Linked DNA regions of Homo sapiens. The protein of the gene in region 3 purifies or fractionates together with the protein of the main gene of each other region. This does not show direct contact. Each region holds a gene or a part of one and is shown on either strand. Other genes may lie near its edges.

Region 1 (7,612 bases), on a different chromosome or scaffold from region 3:
GACACTGTCTCAAAAAAAAAAAAAAAAAAAGATACTTATTTTTGTCCTTTAAACAAGGATAGGTAGGGGGTTCTTGTTATCCAGGAAAGTCTTTTTGTTGCAAATAGCTTTCTGCCTAGATGAAGCTTGACTGTTAGTTATGCCCTTCTAATGATATCCACAAAGAGTAAGCCCCTGCTGAGACACTATTTCTCCCCAGATCAAGGAATTTCTAACTTTTTGACAAAACATAGCATTGGGAGGTATTACATATGTTGGATAGCTCTGGAATTTGACCTAATTCAAATCCTAGCTCCTCCTCTTACTAGGTGTGTGAACATGGATAAGTTATTGTTTAATAACTGCCTCAAGGCAAACTTCAGTTTCCTCAGCTGTAAAATAGGGTTAGTCGTAGTCCTCATCTCATAAGAGTTTTTGTAAAGATTAAATGTGGTGGCCTAGCGCAGTGGCTCATGACTGTAATCCCAGTACTTTTGGGAGACCGAGGTGGGTGGATCACAAGGTCAGGAGTTCGAGACCAGCCTGGCCAACATGGTGAAACCTCGTCTCTACTAAAAATACAAAAGTTAGCCGGGCGTGGTTGCGGGTGCCTGTAATCCCAGCTACTTGGGAGTCTGAGGCAGGAGAATCACTTAAAGCGGGGAATCGGAGGTTGCAGTGAGCCGAGATCGTGCCATTGCACTCCAGCCTGGGCGACAAGAACAAGACTCTGTCTCAAAAAAAAGGATTAAATGAGGGAATATAAGTAATAGTGAAGTGTTTGCACAGTGTCTAACACATAGTAAAGGCTTAATAAATAATAGCTCCTACAGCTAAGATTACTGAGTAAGTGAGATGAAGTAAGTGAAGATTACTGTTCTTCTCTTTTCCTTTTCTGCTTTATCCCTCAAAACATTCTGTTTTGTTCACATATCTCCTGGTAGCATAGACTAGATGTCTTTGTTTGGGGTTTTTTTGTGTTTTTTTTTTTTTTTTGAGACAGAGTCTTACTCTGTCACCCAGGCTGGAATGCAGTGGCATGATCTTGGCTCACTGCAACCTCCGCCTCCTGGGTTCAAGCAATTCTCCTGCCTCAGCCTCCCAAGTAGCTGGGATTACAGATGCCTGCCACTACACCTGGCTAATTTTTTTTGTATTTTTAGTAGAGATGGGGTTTCGCCGTGTTGGCCAGGCTGGTTTCGAACTCCTGACCTCAAGTGATCCGCCCGCCTTGGCCTCCCAAAGTGCTAGGATTACAGGCATAAACCACCGCGCCCGGCCTTGTTTCAGCTATTATAACACAATACCTTAGACTGGTATACCTTAGCAGAAATACCTTAGCAGAAATTTATTCCTCATACTTCTGGAGACTAAGAAGTCCAAGATCAAGGTGCTGTTAGATTCAGTGACTGGTGAGTTCTGTTTCTCATAGGTGACACCTTCTGCATTCTCACGTGACAGAAGGGGTGAACACTGTCCTCATGAGGTAGAAGAGTGGCAAGAGAGCTTGATTGAGCCTCTTTTAGAACGGCACTAATCCCTTGAAGGCTTCATCCTCATGACCTAATCACCTCCCAAAGGCCCCTCCTCTTAATATTATCCCATTGCATATTGGTCCAACATAAGAATTTTGGGAAGGTACCAACATTAAAATCATAGCACTAGATAAATGGCATTACCTGGACTATTGTTCTGGCATTATGTCTCCAATAGCAGCTCCTTCGTTTTATTTTCTTCATAGCACAAGTATAATCTTTCTAAAACATTCCTTTTCCCGTGTGTCACCTATAATAGGATAACATCTGCATTCTTTTTTTTCCCTAAGATGGGGATCTTGCTATATTGCCCAGGCTGGTCTTAAACTTCTGGCCTCAAGTGATCCTCCCGTCTTAGCCTCCTGAGTAGTCTGAATTCTTAACATGGTTTATAAGGTGCTTTGTTCTTCACAGTCTGTGTTTCCACTTCATAGCAATGTCTCCTGCCACACTCCTTTTTTACACATATTCATATGCAGTGAGTTCTTTGTTCTTCTCCAAATTAAACCAGTTATACTCCATTCTGTTATACTTTTTTATCTCCTTGGTGTAGATGTCATTCTCTACCTGTCTACTTAGGTGACAACTACTGTTTTCAAGATCCTATTCAAATGCACAAAAGGATACCCTCATCCTATTGTGTATGACCAATTAGTAGCCTTGTCAAGGTGACTAAACCTATCTTAAGTTGCCAAAACTTAACCTAAAATGTCATTGACTTGTTAGTCTCTTCTCCTTTTTGCTAATTGTTTGCATAATTGTAGCACTTCACTTTACCTTACATATTCAGAACTACTTTTATCTTACTTTTTAAAAATATCTGATTTACCAATAAAATATTTGTTTTTCTGTCCTGTCTTTAACCCTCAATGTGACTTTTCCTGTACCTGGTCAGTTCTGCTTACCAACATTGATGATAATGTATATGGAGAAATGTGCCAAATATTAGGTATGAGGATCCATTAAAATTCCTTGGTTTTCACAGAGAAAAACTAATGTTTAATAACTTTAATTATTTTAATATTGTTAAGAGTGGGATCTCATTTACCTTTGTATTCACAATGCCTAGCACAGTGCTTAGAATGTGAAAAGCATGTAATAAATGTTTCTTGAACTTAATAATCAGTTTTCCTTGCTAAGGAAAAAGCGTTCTTAAACTTAAGTGTTCTGTGGATTAATTAACCACCATTGTGAATTACCACTGCTTATATTAATTATTTGTTCAGAGTTGGTAAAATGGCTCATCAACTTAAAGATAGCTTAAAGCATGGATTTGTGTCCTAAATAACAGGTTTCTCTATGAACTTCCCCTAAAAAGGCTCAAACATTGTCTCACACAGGTTCACTATTATGAAGATGGCAATGTTCAGTTGGTTAGTCATAAAGATGTACAGGATTCACTAACTGTTTCGGTGAGTATGGAATATTTAGTGTCTGTCTTACTCATGTCTCGTTTTTCTTTAAAAAATTAGTTTTGATCCTGAGTGCTGATTCTGCCAGTAGAAATTCAGTTTGCTTTTAATGTTTTGATTTTGGCCACTTCTGTTAGTGCCTCTTATCACCAACCAGCATATATTAGTTCACAGTTTTTGACTCACAATATTGATTATGACTTTAGACAAATGTCCTTCTTAGTCGCTCTCTCAATTGTAATAGTTACTCAAGGACAGCAATACCTTCATTCAATAAATACCAAGAGCAAGGAAAGTTTACCAAACTGCATCCTATAGGGCTGCATTTATATCATTAGAGAAACAACATTTTTAGGAGTATTCAATTAGAATGTTTTGTGGTTTGGTGGTGGTGGTCTATTTGAGACAGGAATTCACTCTGTTGCCTAGGCTGGAGTGCAAGGAAGGACATGATCACAGCTCACTGCAGCCTTGAGCTCCCAGGCTCAAGCGATCCTCCCACCTCAGCCTCCCAAGTAGCTGGGACCACAGGTGCATGCCACCATGCCCAGCTAATTTTTTTATTTTTGGTAGAGATGAGGTTTCTATGTTGCTGAGGCTGGTCTCAAACTCCTAGACTGAAGTGATCCCCCTGCCTCAGCCTCCCAAAGTACTGGGATTACAGGTGTGAGCCACCATGCCTGGCCACTATTGTGTTCTATACCTTGAAAGAAGAGACATGATTTGTTCTTGCATTTCTTTGATAGTCTCATTACTTCTTTAAGTTATTAGAAGTTATTGAGTACCCCCAAAGAGTTTTTGTTTATGTGTTAGATCTATCAATGTTTACCTCACTAAAAATTAAAGCTGAGAAGTGTGGGCCGGGAGTGGTGGCTCACACCTGTAATCCCAGCACTTTGGGAGGTCGAGGCAGGTGAAAGCTTGAGCTCAGGAGTTCAAGACCAGCCTGAGCAACACGGTGAAACCCTGTCTCTACAAAAAAAATATAAAAATCAGCTGAGTTCCTGTAGTCCCAGCTACTTGGGAGGCTGTGGTGGGAGGATCACCTCAGCCCAGGAAGGTTGAGGCTGCAGTGAGCCAAGATCGTGCCACTGCACTTCAGCCTGGGTGACAGAATGAAACCCTGTCTCAAAAAGAAAGAAAGAAAGAAAACTAAGAAGTGTTAAAACTATTCGTTAATTAAAAATAATGATAACAAACCCATTACTTGTTAATAAGTAACATCTTTGTGAATATATTTTCCAAATCAAAAGAAAAAAATAGTGGGAAGAATGGCATTAGTCTGTGTCTTCACAAATTGTGTATTAAAAGATGGCGGACTTTATTGTGATATTAGTTGTTTTTTGCTTGTTTGTTTGTTTTTTTGAGATGAAGTTTCGCTCTTGTTGCCCAGGCTGGAGCACTGTCTTGGCTCACTGCAACCACCACCTCCCAGGTTCAAGTGATTCTCCTGCCTCAGGCTCCCGAGTAGCTGGGATTACAGGTGTCTGCCACCATGCCCAGCTAATTTTTGTATTTTTAGTAGAGACAGGGTTTCACCATGTTGACCAGGCTTGTCTTGAACTCCTGACCTCACCTGCCTCGGCCTCCCAAAGTGCTGGGATTACAGACATGAGCCACTGTACCTGGCCTCTGCTTCATACCTTTCATTATCCCTGAAAGTGATAAAGTCATCACACATCATGTAGTTTCTAGGAAATTACATCATACACACATTACAGAGTGAAAGTGAAACAGGCAAATAACTTTGTGTTAGTATTATTATGAAAGTAGAAAATAGTTTTGACCTCATAGTCTGTCTTAGGACTGCAGCTCTAGATATTAAATCCTACCCTCTTCCCTTTAATTCTGTTGTACTTAATGGTAACAGGAAGAGGGAGATTCATTTCATTTTAGACTTGAACCACGTGGTACAAAATGTGATTGGCTAGTTTAACATCATAAGTGGCAAATAAAGGCATATGTGAGCTTATGTATATGACTGATGTGTCCAAGGGCATTGTTCATACCATTTTAAACCAGAAATATTTTCAAGGCATCAAGGTTTCAAGACTTGATGATGTCTTTTGGGCGTACTGTGGTAGAGTGGAAACAGCATGGGTTTTTTTGGTGAAGACCTAATTTCAGATCCCATCTTTATCATTCAAAAGCTGTATAATTCTGGTCAAGTTGCTTAAGAGGATTCTGTTTTCTCATCTGCAAAATGGGGGTTATGATTATAACATAGTGTCTTCCATAGAGTTGTTGTGAGAATCAAAGGAGGGTAGTGGGCATGGGAACACTTGGAAAACTAGAAATTGTCATACAAATGTTAGTTAAGATGGACTTACTTTCAGGATCTTACTGCTTACACATTAAAAAAAAATCTGATTTTCCCCTTCTTCCTTCCTTCATTAGAATGAAGCCCAAACTGCCAAGGAGTTTATTAAAATCATAGAGAATGCAGAAAATGAGTATCAGGTAAGAAGATTTGGAGTTAATTTTCCTAGATCTACTATCTTATTATTTCGCTGTTAGCATATTTTGTTAGGCCTTGTGTCCTTTAATGTAAATATACATGCTCTTCAGTTTTACTAAATGTGGGAGACTTTGCAGACCTTCCAAGTTGGCATTCTGCTTACAGTCAGGGTTTGAGGATTGCTTGGGACTGTAGCCCTCATTTTAGAAATAATATAGGTGAACTTCTTGACCTACTTCAGAGATTGGAGAGGAGCTCATTGAAAATAATATATCCTGTCTATCCTTCACAGGGGACTCAAGCATATCCATTGACTATAGCATTACTTTTCTGTTCACAACCAGCCCCATTTCTGTTCAAGCAACTCATCTTCAATTATCTATTGCAGACAGCAATTAGTGAAAACTATCAAACAATGTCAGATACCACATTCAAGGCCTTGCGCCGGCAGCTTCCAGTTACCCGCACCAAAATCGACTGGAACAAGATACTCAGCTACAAGATTGGCAAAGAAATGCAGAATGCTTAAAGGCTGAATGTAGGATTCTTCAGTATGTGGAAAGACAAGGATTCAACGTGTGGTCATATGATAAATAAGTGATTTATAAACAAGAGTGATATTTTGCTAGGGCTTTCAAAGTTAACCGGTTTTCTAGCCTCATGGAATACTGTTGAACCTATAGCGTTGTCTTGATTCTTTTGTGTTCTCTGCCTTGTAATTTTCTGTTACTGCTATATCTACGTGTAAATCTTTTTTTCTTTTTTTTTTTTTTTTTTTGGTTAATTCTGCCACATTTAATGTTGGTGAGAGAGTGATCTATCCTAATGACATTTTACTGTTTAAAAAAGTTTCCTAGCCATGAAGCCCTGCTACTGATTTAGACAAGGTATTATGGTCATTACTTTGTACCCCTATCCTTCCAAGCACTTCTGGTACTTCAGTCGTTTTTACTGATCCACCAACACCTAAAGAGGCTATGCTACAGTCTCTAGCTAAATGGAAGACACATTCATCCTTCTCCCTCTGACTGCTTTGATCATCATTTATTGCATCTCATAACTAATTTTCTAAAGTTTGGATTGGGACTTTTCAGGTCCTTTTTGGAGGGCAAAGGAAGTGCCAGCTTCTCTGGGGAACTTGTTTTTAAATCCAAAGACTTGAACCACATTCCCTGCACATGAACATGTTTGCTTTTATCCCTTCTCTCATTGTCTCCTTCCCATCTTAGTACCATTGTAGTTATAAACATCTGCATTTTTTAGAAGCATTTTACCCATTTATTTTTTTAAACATTCAAGAACTGCTGACGTACTGTGGATGTAGAGTATAAAACTTGAAAAATGCAGATGTTGAAGGAATAATAGGTATCTTGTGCTTTAATACTTTATGGCAGGATTGTACTATAAGCAAATGAATTAAACAGCTATGTAAATCATAAAGAAAAACTAAAAATGAACCAAAGTGAAAGGATAACTTCCAGGCAGTATCTTTCTATTGTAACCTGTTATTTAAGGAAATACTAGTGATTTCTTCTAAATAGGATGTAAAACTTCTTTCAAATTACTCTTCCTCAGTCCTGCCTGCCAAGAACTCAAGTGTAACTGTGATAAAATAACCTTTCCCAGGTATATTGGCAGGTATGTGTGTAATCTCAGAATACACAGGTGACATAGATATGATATGACAACTGGTAATGGTGGATTCATTTACATTGTTTACACTTCTATGACCAGGCCTTAAGGGAAGGTCAGTTTTTTAAAAAACCAAGTAGTGTCTTCCTACCTATCTCCAGATACATGTCAAAAAAAGAAAGGTGTTTGTGCTTCCGTTTTGTTTCTGCTCAGTAATATAGTCAAGCAAGTTTGTTCCAGGTGACCCATTGAGCTGTGTATGCATTTTTGTTTATTTCAATAAAATATATTTGTATTATTTGTCCTTCATACTATCCATCCATACCACACTATCTTCTGTATCAGGTAGTCTAATAGAAATATACCTGTTTTGTTCTAAAATTGTCTGAGTCTCTCCTTTTTGATTCATCGCTTCAGCCTTGGTTCTCAAGGTAAGATATTCAGCTGTATTTGATCTTATGTTGAGAATGTTTAGGGTTTCTAAAATTGGTTTCTACCTTCAACTATTTATAGACTCTGAATATCCACAGATTTGCAAAGAACAGCTTTTTAAAGCGTGAGCAATGTCTATGGATCATACTGCTCTTCACTCAAAG
Region 2 (7,612 bases), on a different chromosome or scaffold from region 3:
TTGGCAGGGATCATGAGTGACTTAGACCAGGGTATTGCAGCAGGCTCAAAAAATGAGATCTGCCAGTGACCCAGCCTGTCTGAGCCTCGTTTTCTCCTCATACAATGGAGACAACAATAGCCCCATTTCATAGGGGCTGCTTGTGAGAATTAAGTGAGATGATTCAGGGCAAGCCCTCAGCCCAGAGCCTGATATTGCAATGATAGTATTCGTTGTGGTGAGGGGGAAAGGCAGGAGCTAACAGGAGCTGAAGAAGTTCTCCACTTCTTCAGGCTGTAGGCTGAAGAAGGCTCTCAACAGAGCCAGCAACTCTTTCTAAAAGCTTGGATGAGAAAGGAAGGGAGAGGGAAGGTAGCAGGAACTGAGGACAAGGAACAGAAGGGAGGCAGGCATTCTAGGATAAAGAGTATGGCAAGTAGTGAGAAGAACCCAGGAGAGGGGAGAGAGTTAAAGGGGAATCTAAAAGGTGTGCCCATAATGAGGATTGGGGACCTTCCTTAGTGACTTGCAGAATGTCACAGACTCTGCAGGTGGCCTTCATCCCCTGGAATGAGCAAAAAAAGGTAAAACGAAGCAGATCCTGGCTCAGACCCCTATGTCTCTGGCAGACCAGTATCTGCGATGGAGGATGGTGATGGGCTGTGAAGAGTGTTTTGACCCTGCTCTGGGGCCTCATAACCTTGGCTTATTTATTTCTGAAATGACATCATCTATCGATGACTCCTGCTGAGCCCGGTCGTAATGGCCTTTTCCAGTCAATGTTTTGACTTTTCAGTCTTACTAATGGACCAGCCAGGCTGCCAACATTTCTAAAGAGGCCAGTTTACTTTTCCCTTAAAGCCAGAACACCAGATAAATCAATTATTGGGCTGCTAGGAGCCATTATCAGTTTAAAACCACAGGCCTGTTTCTATGGAAAAGCATGAACCAGATAGCACAATTCCGGGCCATTTCCTCTCTTTTGTTTTGTTTTGTAAAATCTTCCTTTGGCTAATCATGATAGAACCTAATTCTCTTTGCTCTTAATGAGAGAATGAGCTCATTGGAGTCAACTTAGGACACGGTCTGGGAGGTTTTCTTTCGTGTTAGGTGTTGCTGGGTTTTTGTCTGATCTGAAAAACTAAACAAACTCAAGCATGCCTTTTGTTTCTCCTTCTCTTATGTCCTTTTGGTTTTCTTTCAGAGAAAAAAATGATTTGTGAAAGGGTTGGACATTACCATCTGTGAGGAGGAAAGAGGGAGGGAGAGGGAGACAAGGGCTTGCGTCCGTCCACGCATGTCCATCCCTGTCTCAGTTCATGTTCTCAGGGGCCCCAGCCTCAGGCCCCACTCACTCTGGGGCTTCAAGGGTGGTGACCCCAGGGCCGTTTCTAGCGATGATTCTGGAGGGTGATGAGTTGTGACCACTGCGTTGTTGCTCTCCATGCCCAAAGGAATGAAGGAAAGCAGAACTGCCTCTGGGCATCCTTCAGCCTCCTTCATAGACTCATCGCTGCTGCCCATCGCTTTGCTGTTGGTGCCTTGGTGCCACTCCTACCCCTATTCTCTTTCCACCGCACACTCTCACAGTCTCATTCACTCCCACGACTCCAGTCACCTCCCAACTCCCTAATTCTTGCATCAAGCTGGACTGTGCTCCTCATCTATAGACATCTCTGCCTCCTGATTCCTTTCTCTTCACCACCCCATTCATTTGCCCACCAAGTCCTGTCAATGCTACCTTCCTTAATTTCTCTTACATCCATTTCTATCGCCACATCCAGTACCCCAGTAAGGACTTCCTCTCTCCCCTAAGCTGCTCTCAGAGCCTCTTAAAGGTATTTCTGCCTCAAGTCATTCCTTCTTCCATGCTGCTCTTAAAAGATCTTCACCTGCGTCAATTGTCTCCCTTCAGGGACTCCCCATTTCCTAAGGGATAAAGACCAGATTCATTAGCCTCTAAGACCGGGCCTCAAGCTACTTCTCCAAAATCATCTCTAGGCACTCCTCCAAATTCTCTTTACCTTCTGGCCATGGCAAAAGCATGCTGTGCCTTCATGCCTCCCTGCCTTTCCCCTGCTGTTCTTTCGGCCTTCAGTGCTGTTCTCCCTCTTCTCAGTCTGTGAACTTGTAATCACCCTTAAAAGCAAAGTTCTTCATTGATTTACCTGTACCCCCACAGCCCCCTGTGCCAACTCAGAGCACCAGCCAGAGTGTGTTCTAAATGGAACCACCCAATGATGTATCTCTGTCTCTGGCTAGACTAAAAGCTCCCTGAGGACGAGGTTTCTGACTCATTTATTTCTGCTTCCCCATGTGCAGCTCAGAGCTTAATGTGTGACATAGTACAGGCACTTCAGGTTTTAATAAATGGCTGACCACCGAATGAATGAATGAATGCATGAAATAAATGAATGAAGGCTCTGTGATAACCAGGACAGTCACACAACACCAACCAGCATTTACAGCATGTTCTCCTACCCGACCAAATCATCAGCTCTATGAGGGCAGAGACCACACCTATTCTGCTCCCCACTGCCAGCTCTCCAGCTCCTATCAGCCCCATCATGATACGTAGCTAGTGTGAATCCAAGAGCTCATTTGAAATTCACAGTAACCCCATGAGGGAGGAACAGCAAGTATTGTTACCTACCTTTTGTAATGGGACAGTGAACCCTAGTAGGAATTGTCCCAGGTCATCCAATTCCAGAAAACTGAAGTGCTCTCCAGGGTTTGACAAACTTGAGAAATGAGTCTTCTTGTTTTATATCCGTGCTTCTCTAACTTTAATGTGCATTGAAATTACTTGGGATCTTTTCAGAAATGCAGATTCTGGTTCAGTAGGTATGAGATGGGGCTTGAGAGTCTGAGTTTCTAAAAAGCTCCTTGCTTCTAATAAGCTCTAATAAGTTGATTAGAAAATAAACTTAATAATTCCTAATAAGCTCTAATAAACATCTAGTCAGGTGGTGTTGACTAGTATCTACAAACCACCACATTTTGAACACCAAGGTGAGTGCTAGTTACCACAAAGCTTCCTCCTGGCCATTGCATTAAGATAGTGGATTTTTAAATCTACAAATGAATTCATTTGTGCCTTGGATCAAAATCAAGGGCTCTTTCTGGTCAGCAAACTTCTTGCAAGTTTGGATCTATGAGCACAAGATGGGTGCCTGGGCAGTGCTGGGATGGGAACCTGAGACACCTGAGACCCTGAGACATCAAAACCACTCAGAAGTGTGCAAAGTGAAGGTAAGAGAGAGGGAGACGTGAGGACAGACTTCCTCCATGCAAACCAAGAGAGATTTAAAAATTCAGAATGGATAGCAACATTGCACGCATTTGCTTATTATGGTTTTACATTGTATTCCACTTACAGCATTAAAAAGGCTTGAGATGGCTTAAAAAATAAACTACATGACCAATGCAACTAGTAAGAACAGAAATTCTAGAAAGACAGGCAGAAACCCTGAAGATTAAGATCACGAAACTCCTGGAGAATCTGATTAGAGCTTATGAATTCTTGCTCCACAAAAATGAATATATTCATATACACAACAATTTGCATATCATTTCAGTGGGTGTGTGATTCCCCTGAAGCCTATTCAAAAGTCCGGGTTAAGAGCACCCGATACAGAGAATAAAGAGAGAAAATTATGCCAGTGCCCTGGCTGAAGATGACAACTGTATTTGGACACTCAAATTGGCTCTGAGATGACTCATGGCAGCCAAGGGGAAAGGGGGGGACAAGATGAATGGGAGGACTCTTGGTGTCTGATAGTAGAAGGAAGAACATCAATCAGTCTTTCAGGAGAGGGAACTATTTTCTTAACCCCAATCCTCAGTATATTGTCAAGACAGGCCACTAGACAGAGGGCATAGTAGTTAAGGCGGACTCCGGATCAGTCTGCACAAGGCCAGGGAACCTAGGAGCAATGAAGGGCAGACTCAAATCCTTCATTAGTCCTTTGGGGGGCCTTAAATAGCAATTGACACATAATGAAACACAATCTATCTTCCTGATTCACACACACACACACACACACACACACACACACACACACACACACACAGACTCTGGAGACCACCTTGCTGGATTCAAATCCAAGGTCTACTAGTTACTGGCTCTGTAATCTCAGGTAACTTTTAACATTTCTTTCTTTCTTTTTTTTTTGAGACAGAGTCTCGCTCTGTCACCCAGGCTGGAGGGCAGTGGGGCGATCTCAGCTCACTGCAACCTCCGCCTCCCAGGTTCAAGCAATTCTCCTATCTCAGCCTCCCGAGTAGCTGGGACTACAGGTGCACACCACCACACCTGGCAAATTTTTGTATTTTTTAGTAGAGATGGGGTTTCGCCATGTTGGTCAGGCTGGTCTCGAACTCCTGACCTCAGGTGATCCACCCACCTCGGCCTCCCACAGTGCTGGAATTACAGGTGCGAGCCACCGTACCCAGCCAACTTTTAACATTTCTGTGCCTGGTGTCCCCATCTATAAACTGGGGTTGTTGTGGGGATGAAATTAGTTCTTATATGTAAAATGCTTAAGACGTGCCTGGGATATTATGTAAGCGTGAGCTGTTATATTATGGGAAGGTGGCAGCATGGAGTACTGGTAATGAGTACTGATGGCCTGCCTGGATGTAAATCCTGGCTCTACCACTTATTAGCTTTGTGACCTTGGTCAGTGTACTTACTGGGTTAAACAGGGTCCCCCCCAAAAGTCATGCCCACCTAGCACCCCAGAATGTGACCTTTCTCTGGAAATATGGTCTTTACAAATGTAATTAATGAAGTTAAAATGAGGTCACACTGGATTAGGGTACGTCCTAACTACCCTATGACTGGTGTCTTAAGAAGAAGAGTGGACACACGCCCTTAAAAAGGCTTGAGATGGCTTAAAATAAACCTATATAGGCAGCATAACTAGTAAGAACAGATGATGATAGAGTCAGAGATTGGAGTGATGTGGCTGCAAACCAAGGACTGTCAGGGATGGCCAGCAGACACCAGAAGGTAGGAATGAGGCATGGAACAGATTCCCCGTCAAAGCCTCCAGATGGAATCAACCCTGCTGACACCTCGATTTTGGACTTCTGGTCCTCTGAACTGAGACAGAGTAAATCTCTGTTGTTTTAAGCCATCCAGTTTGTGGTCATTTATTATGGCAGCCCTATAAATCTAACATAGTCTGCACTTCTTCATCTGTAAAATGGGGATAATAAAAGTATCTGCTTCACAATTATTAAGACTGCAAGAAATAATCCATGTAAAGAGCTTAGCATTGTGCCTGGTATGCAGTAAGAACAAAACAAAGCTTCTATTATAAGGTACAGTGACAAGTGGCCAACAGTAGCCTCAAGGATGGTGTTAATAGTAGTCTGTTGTATGTCTCTAATTTATTTACTCAATGTCTTATTGAATTTTTATGCCGTTTTGGGGGTTTTGGGTTTTTCTTCGCTAATAGAGGTTTTTTTTTTTGTTTTTTGTTTTTTTTTTAGACAAGGTCTCACTCTTTCACCCAGGCTGGAGTGCAGTGGCTCACTGCAACCTCCACCTTCTGGGCTCAAGTGGTCCTCCCCCAAACCCCAGAAGCTGGGACCACAGGTGCATGCCACCATGCCCAGCTAATTTTTTGTATTTTTAGGCGAGACGGGGTTTCACCATGTTGCCCAGGCTGGTCTTGAACTGAAAAAGGGTATACCAATGTAACTTCTCTTCTGTGTGAGGACACTGGTCTCCCCACATCTTGTCAACACTGGGAATTCTCAGACTTTTAAATCTCTGTCAATCTGATAGAACTGATATCTCCTTCCACAATTTGCTTTTTTATAATTATAAGTGAGTTTTGTTATTATTTATATGTGTATTAGCCATTAGTATTTCCTTTTGTGTGAACTGTCTATTCCTCTCCTCTTTCCACATTTTCTGGCCTGTTCTGTTTTTTTATTGGAGGAACTCTTTGTCTATTAAACAAATCAGCCTTTTGTTTAATATGAAGCAAATATATTTTCCCCCAGCTTGCCGTTTGCTTTTTGGTATTGTTCGTATTAATTTTCATATTGGTTTTTTGGAAAATACAAAAACATGTTTCATAAAGCTCTATCTTACATTAACACCTGCTATGAGGCTATGTGATGAAGTTCATGTTTGTAAAATGGAGAATGAGGATAGGAATGAATTCCACAAGCTTTCCTACAAGTTAGCTTTTTTTTTTTGACACTGAGTCTCACTCTGTTGCCCAGGCAAGAGTACAGTGACACAGTCTCGGCTCACTGCAACCTCCACTGCCCAGGTTCAAGCGATTCTTTTGCCTCATCCTCCCGAGTAGCTGGAATTACAGGTGCCCACCACCACGCCTGGCTAATTTTTGTATTTTTAGTAGAGATGGGGTTTCACCATGTTGGCCAGGCTGGTCTCGAACTCCTGACCTCAGGGGATCCACCCACGTCAGCCTCCCAAAGTGCTGGGATTACAGGCCTGAGCCACCACACCCGGTCTACAGGTTAGCTTTTATTCTACAAGTGCTTTTGACTTACGGCTATCAAAGCTAATAATAATGCTAGGCATTTATTCATTCATTCATTCATTCAACGAATATGTCTTCAGCACTGGACAGGTGCAGGGCTTTGTGAAGGACCATGGGAGACAGAGATGTTTGTCCTCAGGTAGCTTTTAGTCTTGTGGGAGTAGGGGTGCCTGAAGATAATGCAATAACTCCCAAAGAACTCTGATGGCCTCTCTTGTTTGTACTACAATCGTTAGCTTCCTAGAACTCTCTTCTGCTGGTGTGGAGGGAAATGAAATGGAAGGGGCAGAGCGTGGGGAGAGCTAAGTGTGGCCTGAACCAGAAAAGTTGCAGAGACATAGGAGGAGTGGAGTGCAGCATGGTTTGAGGGCAGGTGGGCAGGCCAGCTGAGACAGGGAGATGTCTTCAGACTCTTTTCCTGGAACCCTGTTGCTTACAGATGATTGCTGTGGTGACTCAGACACCATGATGACCCCAAGAGATGCAAAATGAAAACATGCACCCGCGCGCGCACACACACACACAGACACACACACACACACACACACACACAGGCTTTTCCAATTTAAACCACTTGACAACTTTGACGTTTAGAGCATCGAGCATGGCTCATTGTGTTCTGGGATGAAGCTCATAGCAACTGCAGAAAGTGATGGAGTCAAACACTATGTTTAGTGTGTTTGTTTTTTTAGAAGGTACTTTCCCATATGACTAAGAGAATGAAATCAGCCAGTGAAAATAACTGCAAATGAGCCAGAAAACAAGTCTGTTAACAATAGCTGGTCTCTAAGTCCCCATCCTCCTCCATTCAGGGGCTCCACGCACATCTGTCATAATAGAACTAGGCCTTAAAGGGCCTTAAATCCTGTATTGTCAACTCCCCAATAACCACCATCAATCAAGACATCAACCCTCTCTGGAAGACCTCATCTAGGGCTCTGCCATCGCTGCTCACAGCCTATAGAGACAGGTGCTCACTACTTCCCGGCTTAGCCCAGTGTACCCCTGGGCAGTTTTTGTTTGTTTGCTTGTTTGTTTGTTTGTTTTTTGTGTCTCATTCTGTCACCCAGGCTGGAGTACAGTGGTGCAAACAGGACTCACTGCAG
Region 3 (8,225 bases):
GTGAGAGGAAGCAGAAGGGCTGAGATGGAGCCATCCAGAGGAGGAGCTAACAGGGGAGCTGGAAGCCACCCTGTGGGAACAGGGAAGAGGGAACTCCAGGAGAAGTCTTGGTGAGGGGAGCAATCGCTGCCAGGTGAGGTGTAAAATCATCCATCTCTTTTGAAAAGCTACAGGTGCCATGCCTTAGAAATGTTCAGAGCAGCAGTTCCCCTATTTGAAATCTCTCTTAAGAAGAGCCGGTCTGGCATTCTCTGCTCTACCACCTCTAGAGGCTCCCATTGCTTTCAGACTCACTGACCAGCCACGAGGTCCTGCCTCTCTCCCTGCCTTCCTGCTCTTACCTGGCTCATGCTCTGCCAGACTCCTTGCCATTCCCTCAATGCCTTGCTTGCACGTTGCCACTGCGTGCCTTGGCACACGAACTCCACCTGTCTGAGCCTCTGTCTGTCACCTTTGCTCATGGCACCTGCACCTTCCACCTTCAATTTGAGCAGGACCTCTTCTGAGAAAGCCTCTGCAGCTAGCCCCTCCACACGGTGCCTTCCATATTGCCTGGTAACAGCTCGTGAACTCTGTGTCTCCACTATTGACCAAGAGCTTTCAGTGAGCAGGGGACAGTGGGAGCTTCATAAATGTTTGATGTGCACCTGTGTGCATGACTGAACGTTTTTGCTTACAGAAATAGCTAGGACCATGGAGACGATGATATGGATGATGTTATTTTTATCTCTATGTGCTAGATGCCATCCTCAGAGTTTCATGTGCCGCCTCTCATTTAATCTGGATAAACAACTCTGTGTGTTAGATGATCTCACACTTTTAGAAATGGCTCAGGTCAGGTAAGTTGCTAAGGTAACATACAAGTGATGGAGCCGGAGTTGAAAACCTATGTTCTTAGTGTCTCTCACTACCACCACCTTGGTTCAACCGCCTTTATTATCTTCCTCTTCTTCAAGGGATCTGACCTTTTCCCCGCACACAGTGGGCTTGTGAGAAGTTCATCCACTTTCTACCTACCTCTCCTGACACCTGCTTATTTGTATTTTTCCTTATAATAACTAAATTGGAACCAATCCCAGTGTCCAGCAAGAGGGGTAAAGTTAAGTAAATTATGGAAGATTCACATGGTAAAACAGCATGAAGCCATTAAAAGTACTATTTCTGAAGAGTTCATAACATGAAAACATGGTTATGTGAAAAATGGGGCACAACAGTTTATATACTGTATGAAGATAAATATAAAATATGCGGCCGGGTGCGGTGGCTCACGCCTGTAATCCCAGCACTTTGGGAGGCCGAGGCGGGCGGATCACGAGGTCAGGAGGTCGAGACCATCCTGGCTAACACGGTGAAACCCCGTCTCTACTAAAAATACAAAAAAATTAGCCAGGCGTGGTGGCAGGCGCCTGTAGTCCCAGCTACTCAGGAGGCTGAGGCAGGAGAATGGCGTGAACCCGGGAGGCGAAGCTTGCAGTGAGCCGAGATCGCGCCGCTGCACTCCAGCCTGGGCGACAGAGCGAGACCCTGTCTCAAAAAAAAAAAAAAAAAAAAAAAAACATAAAATATGCAAACAAAGAAAAAAGACCACACATATCACTGCCTAAAGATTGGACGGTCTTTCTTTCTAGTAGCTGCAGAGAAGTCAACAAGGATGAAGGCTGGGGATGGGTTGTTAGGTTTGGCCGCTAGTTTTGGTCCCTGGCGTCGTTTCTGTTTGGGTAGAACTGTGAAGGGGAAAGGGAAAGTCTGACATGACCCGTGAAAGGGAGGAAACCAGCAGAGGACTGCAGTTTGAAGACATAAGAAAGGCACCAGGCATGGGTTAACCTCAGAAAGGAGTGAGGGCCTGAGGCCACAGTGGCAGGAGTTGAAGGCACAGAGATACTGACAGAGAAGGAAGAAAGCCCAGAGAGCTTGACAGCTGCTGAGCAGGAAGGGTGGGTAGGACAGACGGCTTGAGGAGAGTGACAGTGCCACCAACCATTTCTCTGACAGCATCATTCCAGACCCTCAGCATCCAGGCCACCTTCCTCTGGGTGAATTTTCACACCTTGATGCCCATTTTAGTGGCACTATTCTCTAGCCTTGATCTGCTCAGCCATGAGTACGGTGCAACTTCTTGTGAGCATCCCTCAGTGTATCCTGGCATTATGTTAGTGCTTTAAGCAGAGCTGGTACATGCTCTGCCCCTGGTGGGTCAAATCAAGTCCTGGTCCTGCCCCTTACTAACTGGGTGACACCAGGCAAGTTACTTAACCTGAGTTTCCACACCAGTATAATGGACTGAATCATGCTTACCAGCTGAGGAGGTCACTATGAGGATTAATGGCGTGTAAAATCCTTAGCACAGCACCTGACACATAATGCTTAATAAAGATTACTCAAATACTGATGCTATTATAATACAGTTGATTTTTTTTACCTAAATACAGACTTTACATTTATCCCTATAAAATTTTCTGTTTTGTTTAGTGCCCAGCGTTTCTGTAGCTTGTAAAAACCTTTTGAATCTTGATCATCTTTAGCTAATCAATCATTTCATCTGCTTGTTTGATACATGTGTTTTGTTTTTTCATCTACGATACTGGTGAAAGTGTTGAATGAAAGGGGAGGCGGTAGAGCTCTGTGGCATGCCTCTGGAGACCTTTTTTTTTTTTTTTTCCTAAAGGTTGCTCTTGCTCATTAATTAGAACTCAGGTTATGACTGTGTAGTGACAGGTTCACTACAGTCATTCCACCATCTGTTTCTTTCACTTGTGCAAGAGGAACTCACAAATATCTTCAAAGTTCTGCTGAAACTCAGATGTGCAAGGTCAAAAGAAGTGTCTTGACTAGCAGTCCAGGGCCCCTGTCTAAAATGAGGTCAAAGTTCAGCGTAACGATTTTTTTTTTAATTTGGCTAATTCTAAATAGTTTTTAGACTTCTATATACCATTAACAACTCTGGAAAATTAAATGTATCCATTGTATTATGTATGGGTAGTTCAAAGAGAAAAAAAGGGATGAAAAGACTGAAATACTTAGTCTTTAATTGGTGCAACTGAACCACTGGGAATTTGAATTTTTGTTCAAAAGTTGTTTATGGAGTGCTAGTTATGGGAAGCCTTTGCATTGGATTCCAAGCACAAAGACCAGGCTCTTAAAGTTCAAATGCCAGTGGGGGAGATGGGAGGCAGCCTAGATACCTGGGGGAGGAGCAGAGAGCGCTCAAGGGAAGCATCCAGCTCTGCTAGATGGCAAGTGGCAAGGAGAGTGCCAAGATGAGGAGTGTCTCCAGCTACTCCAGACTGTTCAGAGCTGTTTGCTCTTGGATGGGGAGAGGATGGGTGGGGCTAGGGTGGAAGGAACAGAAGTACACAGCAGAAAGCCAAAGAAGGCCTGCCATGTTCCAGAAAGTGCTAGTGGTTTTGGGTGGCCACAGGCAGAGGGTGGATTGAAAAGAGGGTGAGGCCTGAGCAGGAAATTGGCCAGAATGCTGGTTGCCCAGGCCTGGCTCTTCCTCAAAACCCATGTGGGGGTTGATTTTCAAAGCTTTTCTCTTGCCGGGCCCCACCCACAGGAATTCCAATCAAGTACGGATGAGAGAGTCTGTCTGCCCAAAGAAACCTCGTGCTCAGCCTGGCTGAGGAAGCCTCCGGGGGCTGCTGCACCAGTCAAGAGAGGATTGGTGGGGGTAGGGTTGGGGGCTGACTTATGGCCATGGCAAGGGGGCTGGTAGGCAGGGGCGGACAGGAGAGGGCTTTTAAAAGGCAGTCTTTTCTAGCACCTGGTGACTGTTGGGCTGTTGGGGTGGAGACACAGAGGGGTGCCCAGCACTGTCCCAGGCTTCTGACATGAGGGGCAAGAGAGCTAGGAAGGAGGAGCGTCGGCATCACTGGAGTTTGGAATTTATGAGTCTATGAGGACATTTAGGGGCTGACATCTTGGAGGCAATTGGAAATGTGGTGTAGAGCTCCAGTGCACGATCTGGGTGGGAGGTCTCAGATGCACAGGTGCCAGGCAGTTGCAGAAGCTGTGGAATTGGGTGGAACTCTCCAGAAACAGCCTATCATGAGAAGAGGCTGGGAAGGACCTTGGGAGACACGGACATGGGGGGCAGTGGGAGGGGCAGGGGAGCCAGGGGAGGGGCCCATGAGGAGCGAATGAAGAGGAGGAGGAAGAGAGGGGCATGGTGTGACAATCTGGCCTGGCTGACCTGGAGTGTGGACACTCCCAGTCCAGAAAGCGGTTCTAGGAGGGAAACACATGTCGTCCCATCTTGTCCCATCTTCCATATAAGTCTTCAAGTCATTTCTGTGGCTCATGCCAGAAGATCCCTCAGAAAAGCAGGCGGCGTGAGAAGATGCTGTTCTCATCTCACCTGTGTGCCTTGGGGGGGTGGCTGGCATGGTCTTGAGCTCATAAGGTTCAGTGGTCCCGAGCCTCTGCCTCAGCTTGGCGCCTTGGCATGGGGAGGGCACTCAGGGAAGTTGGGAGGTGGCCCTCTCTTTCCTGGCTCCGCTGAAGGGCTTGGCGAGCTGTTCCATCCCAGTCCACAGACTCCTGCCTCATGGGAAGGCCCCATATTCTGGAGGTCAGTTGACAGCTGGTTACATTGTTTGCATGAACTGCGGACTGCATCTGTTTGGATGAATGCTGTAAAGTTAACTCTTCCTCCAGTTTGAAGCATTGCTTTGTGGGTAGAGGAATGTGAGGGAGGAGGGGACAGGAATGAATGGGTGGAACTTACCCGGAGCTGAGTAAACTCACCGTTGTTTACTTACCAGGCTGGGTTTCAGCTGCAGGGCACTCAATGCCAGCAGAAGCACCAGGATCGCAGGGTGTGGGCGGCCTGGGGTACTGGGCTGAGGAGTCACTGGTCTTCAGAAGAGAAGCCGTCAGTGGTTACGTATGTCCTAATACTGCCTGCCATTTAATACCACTTTTAGCTGAAACCAATCCTAAATTATAGTTAGGAGAGCACATGGACTCTCAAGTAGATGGTTGCAGTTCAGAGTTCAGGATTACTTTCAGGGCCAGATTCGCTTAACTAATACGGAGTTCAAACTAGGAGTCACAGGCCCTAGCTCTGCTGGAGTCCTGGTCCTTTGAGACTCTGTCTGCTGTTTGGTGAGTTATTTCTCTCTGGGCTTCAGTTAGGGGCTCTGTTAAACAAAAGGATTGATTGGCCTAGTGACTTTCACATTACTTCTCAGAGCCCAGGCTTCCTTGGAAGGCCCCCAGGGCTCTCAGCTCCAGCTCCCATCAGAACACCTCCACTTTCACCAGCTTCGCTTAGCCAGCTGTTACAACTTAATTTTTTTTTTTTTTTGAGACGGAGTTTCACGCATGTCACCCAGGCTGCAGTGCAATGGCAAGATCTTGCCTCACAGAAACCTCCGCCTCTCGGGTTCAAGCGATTCTCCTGCCTCAGCCTCCCAAGTAGCTGGGGTTAGAGGCATGCGCCACCACGCCCAGCTACTTTTGTATTTTTAGTAGAGACGGGGTTTCTCCATGTTGGTCAGGCTATTCTCAATCTCCCAATCTCAGGTGATCCACCCACCTCGGCCTCCCAAAGTGCTGGGATTACACACGTGAGCCACCGCGCCTGGCCAGAACTTCCTTTTGAAGTAGGCTTTCTGCAGCTCTAAAAAGGAGTTTGACAAACAACTTGGAGTAGATAATCAGTTCTGAGACTCTGTAGTGGCCAATTCTTGATAAATTTGGTAATTCATGTACAATTCTTTTGGGGGGCATATATTTTGATATTTGCCTTTAAAGATTAACATTCATTGTTCTGATTATGAAAGTAATAGGTACATATTGTAGAAAATACATCCAACTCTCAGGTGTCTCTTATGAGGATCCCATTCCTAATCCATTTTAATGAAGTAAGCTTCATGACGTTAGTAATAAATATTTTCAATAGCAGACCTGGGGTAGGAGCTGTGTAGCCCGTGGCAACAAGGATGGGTGTGGGTGTGTGTGCCTGAGACAGGCGTGTCTGTGTGTTTCTTTATGAGGCCTCCATCGTCCTATCTGCACAAGAGTGTGTGTCACTGCCTGCCAGGTCATTCTTCCATTCTCGTTCTCTCAAAACTTACACATCCATGTCACGTTTCGGCAAGCTTCTGCTTTTTGCTAGCTGTTAAGGATTAAAGCAACTCAAATGATTTAGGGGTAGTCATGATTGATATCCATCCAGTGACTTTTCTGTTTTATTGATTAAGTAAGGCGATTTATATTAACTAATAGATAGGTTCCTCATCCAGCATTGTCCTAGTCTAGTACTTGTAACTGTGAACTTTGTTTGTTTGTTTGTTTGTTTGTTAGTTTTTCTTTTTTTTTTTTCTTTTTTCTTTTTTTTTTTTATTGATCATTCTTGGGTGTTTCTCGCAGAGGGGGATTTGGCAGGGTCACAGGACAATAGTGGAGGGAAGGTCAGCAGATAAACAAGTGAACAGAGGTCTCTGGTTTTCCTAGGCAGAGGACCCTGCGGCCTTCCTCAGTGTTTGTGTCCCTGGGTACTTGAGATTAGGGAGTGGTGATGACTCTCAACGAGCATGCTGCCTTCAAGCATTTGTTTAACAAAGCACATCTTGCACCGCCCTTAATCCATTTAACCCTGAGTGGACACAGCACATGTTTCAGAGAGCACAGGGTTGGGGGCAAGGTCACAGATCAACAGGATCCCAAGGAAGAAGAATTTTTCTTAGTACAGCACAAAATGAAAAGTCTCCCATGTCTACCTCTTTCTACACAGACACGGCAACCATCCGATTTCTCAATCTTTTCCCCACCTTTCCCCCCTTTCTATTCCACAAAACTGCCATTGTCATCATGGCCCGTTCTCAATGAGCTGTTGGGCACACCTCCCAGACGGGGTGGTGGCCGGGCAGAGGGGCTCCTCACTTCCCAGTAGGGGCGGCCGGGCAGAGGCGCCCCTCACCTCCCGGACGGGGCGGCTGGCCGGGCGGGGGGCTGACCCCCCCCACCTCCCTCCCGGACGGGGCGGCTGGCCGGGCGGGGGGCTGACCCCCACCTCCCTCCCAGACGAGGCGGCTGGCCTGGCGGGGGCTGACCCCCCACCTCCCTCCCGGACGGGGCGGCTGCCGGGCGGAGACACTCTTCTCCTCCCAGACGGGGTGGCTGCCGGGCGGAGGGACTCCTCACTTCTCAGAGGGTGCGGCTGCCGGGCGGAGGGGCTCCTCACTTCTCAGACGGGGCGGCCGGGCAGAGACGCTCCTCACATCCCAGACGGGGCGGCAGGGCAGAGGCGCTCCCCACATCTCAGACGATGGGCGGCTGGGCAGAGACGCTCCTTACTTCCCAGATGGGATGGCGGCCGGGAAGAGGCGCTCCTCACTTCCTAGATGGGATGGCGGCCAGACAGAGATGCTCCTCACTTCCCAGATGGGGTGGCGGCCGGGCAGAGGCTGCAATCTCGGCACTTTGGGAGGCCAAGGCAGGCGGCTGGGAGGTGGAGGTTGTAGCGAGCCGAGATCACGCCACTGCACTCCAGCCTGGGCACCATTGAGCACTGAGTGAACGACACTCCGTCTGCAATCCCAGCAACTCGGGAAGCCGAGGCTGGCGGATCACTCGTGGTTCGGAGCTGGAGACCAGCCCGGCCAACACAGCGAAACTCCGTCTCCACCAAAATAATATGAAAACCAGTCAGGCGTGGCGGCGCGCCACTCGGCAGGCTGAGGCAGGAGAATCAGGCAGGGAGGTTGCAGTGAGCCGAGATGGCAGCAGTACAGTCCAGCTTCAGCTCTGCATCAGAGGGAGACCGTGGAAAGAGAGGGAGAGGACGGAGAGGAGGGAGAGGAGGGAGAGGAGGGAGACGGGAGAGGGAGAGGAGGGAGAGGGAGAGGGAGAGGGAGAGGAGGGAGAGGAGGGAGAGGGAGAGCGAGAGCCTGTTTGTTTTTTTTTCATTTGAGACAGAGTTTCACTCTTGTCTCCCAGGCTGGAGTGCAGTGGTGCGATCTCGGCTCACTGCAACCTCCACCTCCTGGGTTCAAGCGATTATCCTGCCTCAGCCTCCTGAGTAGTTGGGATTACAGGCATGCACCACCACGCCCAGCTAATTTTTGTGTTTTTAGTAGAGACAGGGTTTCACCATGTTGGCCAAGCTGGTCTCCAACTCCTGACCTCAGGTGATCCACCCACCTGGGTCTCCCAAAGTGCTGGGATTACAGGTGTGAGCCACTGTGCCCAGCCTGTTTTATTCTTATTCTTTATTT

Evidence for each region. Proteins that work in one complex are often made in the same cells at the same time.
Region 1: the proteins of MYO5C (region 3) and CAPZA1 purify together in Homo sapiens (affinity purification with mass spectrometry; 2 studies listed by BioGRID and IntAct, with this or other methods). This does not show direct contact.
Region 2: the proteins of MYO5C (region 3) and TMOD1 purify together in Homo sapiens (affinity purification with mass spectrometry; 4 studies listed by BioGRID and IntAct, with this or other methods). This does not show direct contact.

What each region holds. Positions count from the first base shown.
Region 1 is NC_000001.11:112,664,220-112,671,831, forward strand, and holds the end of CAPZA1 (F-actin-capping protein subunit alpha-1), read left to right. Parts: intron 1-2,854; coding exon 2,855-2,926; intron 2,927-5,323; coding exon 5,324-5,386; intron 5,387-5,676; coding exon of another isoform or gene 5,677-5,772; coding exon 5,773-5,913; 3' UTR 5,914-7,397; downstream 7,398-7,612. UniProt on the Homo sapiens protein: F-actin-capping proteins bind in a Ca(2+)-independent manner to the fast growing ends of actin filaments (barbed end) thereby blocking the exchange of subunits at these ends.
Region 2 is NC_000009.12:97,504,054-97,511,665, forward strand, and holds part of TMOD1 (tropomodulin-1), read left to right. Parts: intron 1-7,612. UniProt on the Homo sapiens protein: Blocks the elongation and depolymerization of the actin filaments at the pointed end. The Tmod/TM complex contributes to the formation of the short actin protofilament, which in turn defines the geometry of the membrane skeleton.
Region 3 is NC_000015.10:52,285,063-52,293,287, reverse strand, and holds part of MYO5C (unconventional myosin-Vc), read left to right. Parts: intron 1-8,225. UniProt on the Homo sapiens protein: May be involved in transferrin trafficking. Likely to power actin-based membrane trafficking in many physiologically crucial tissues.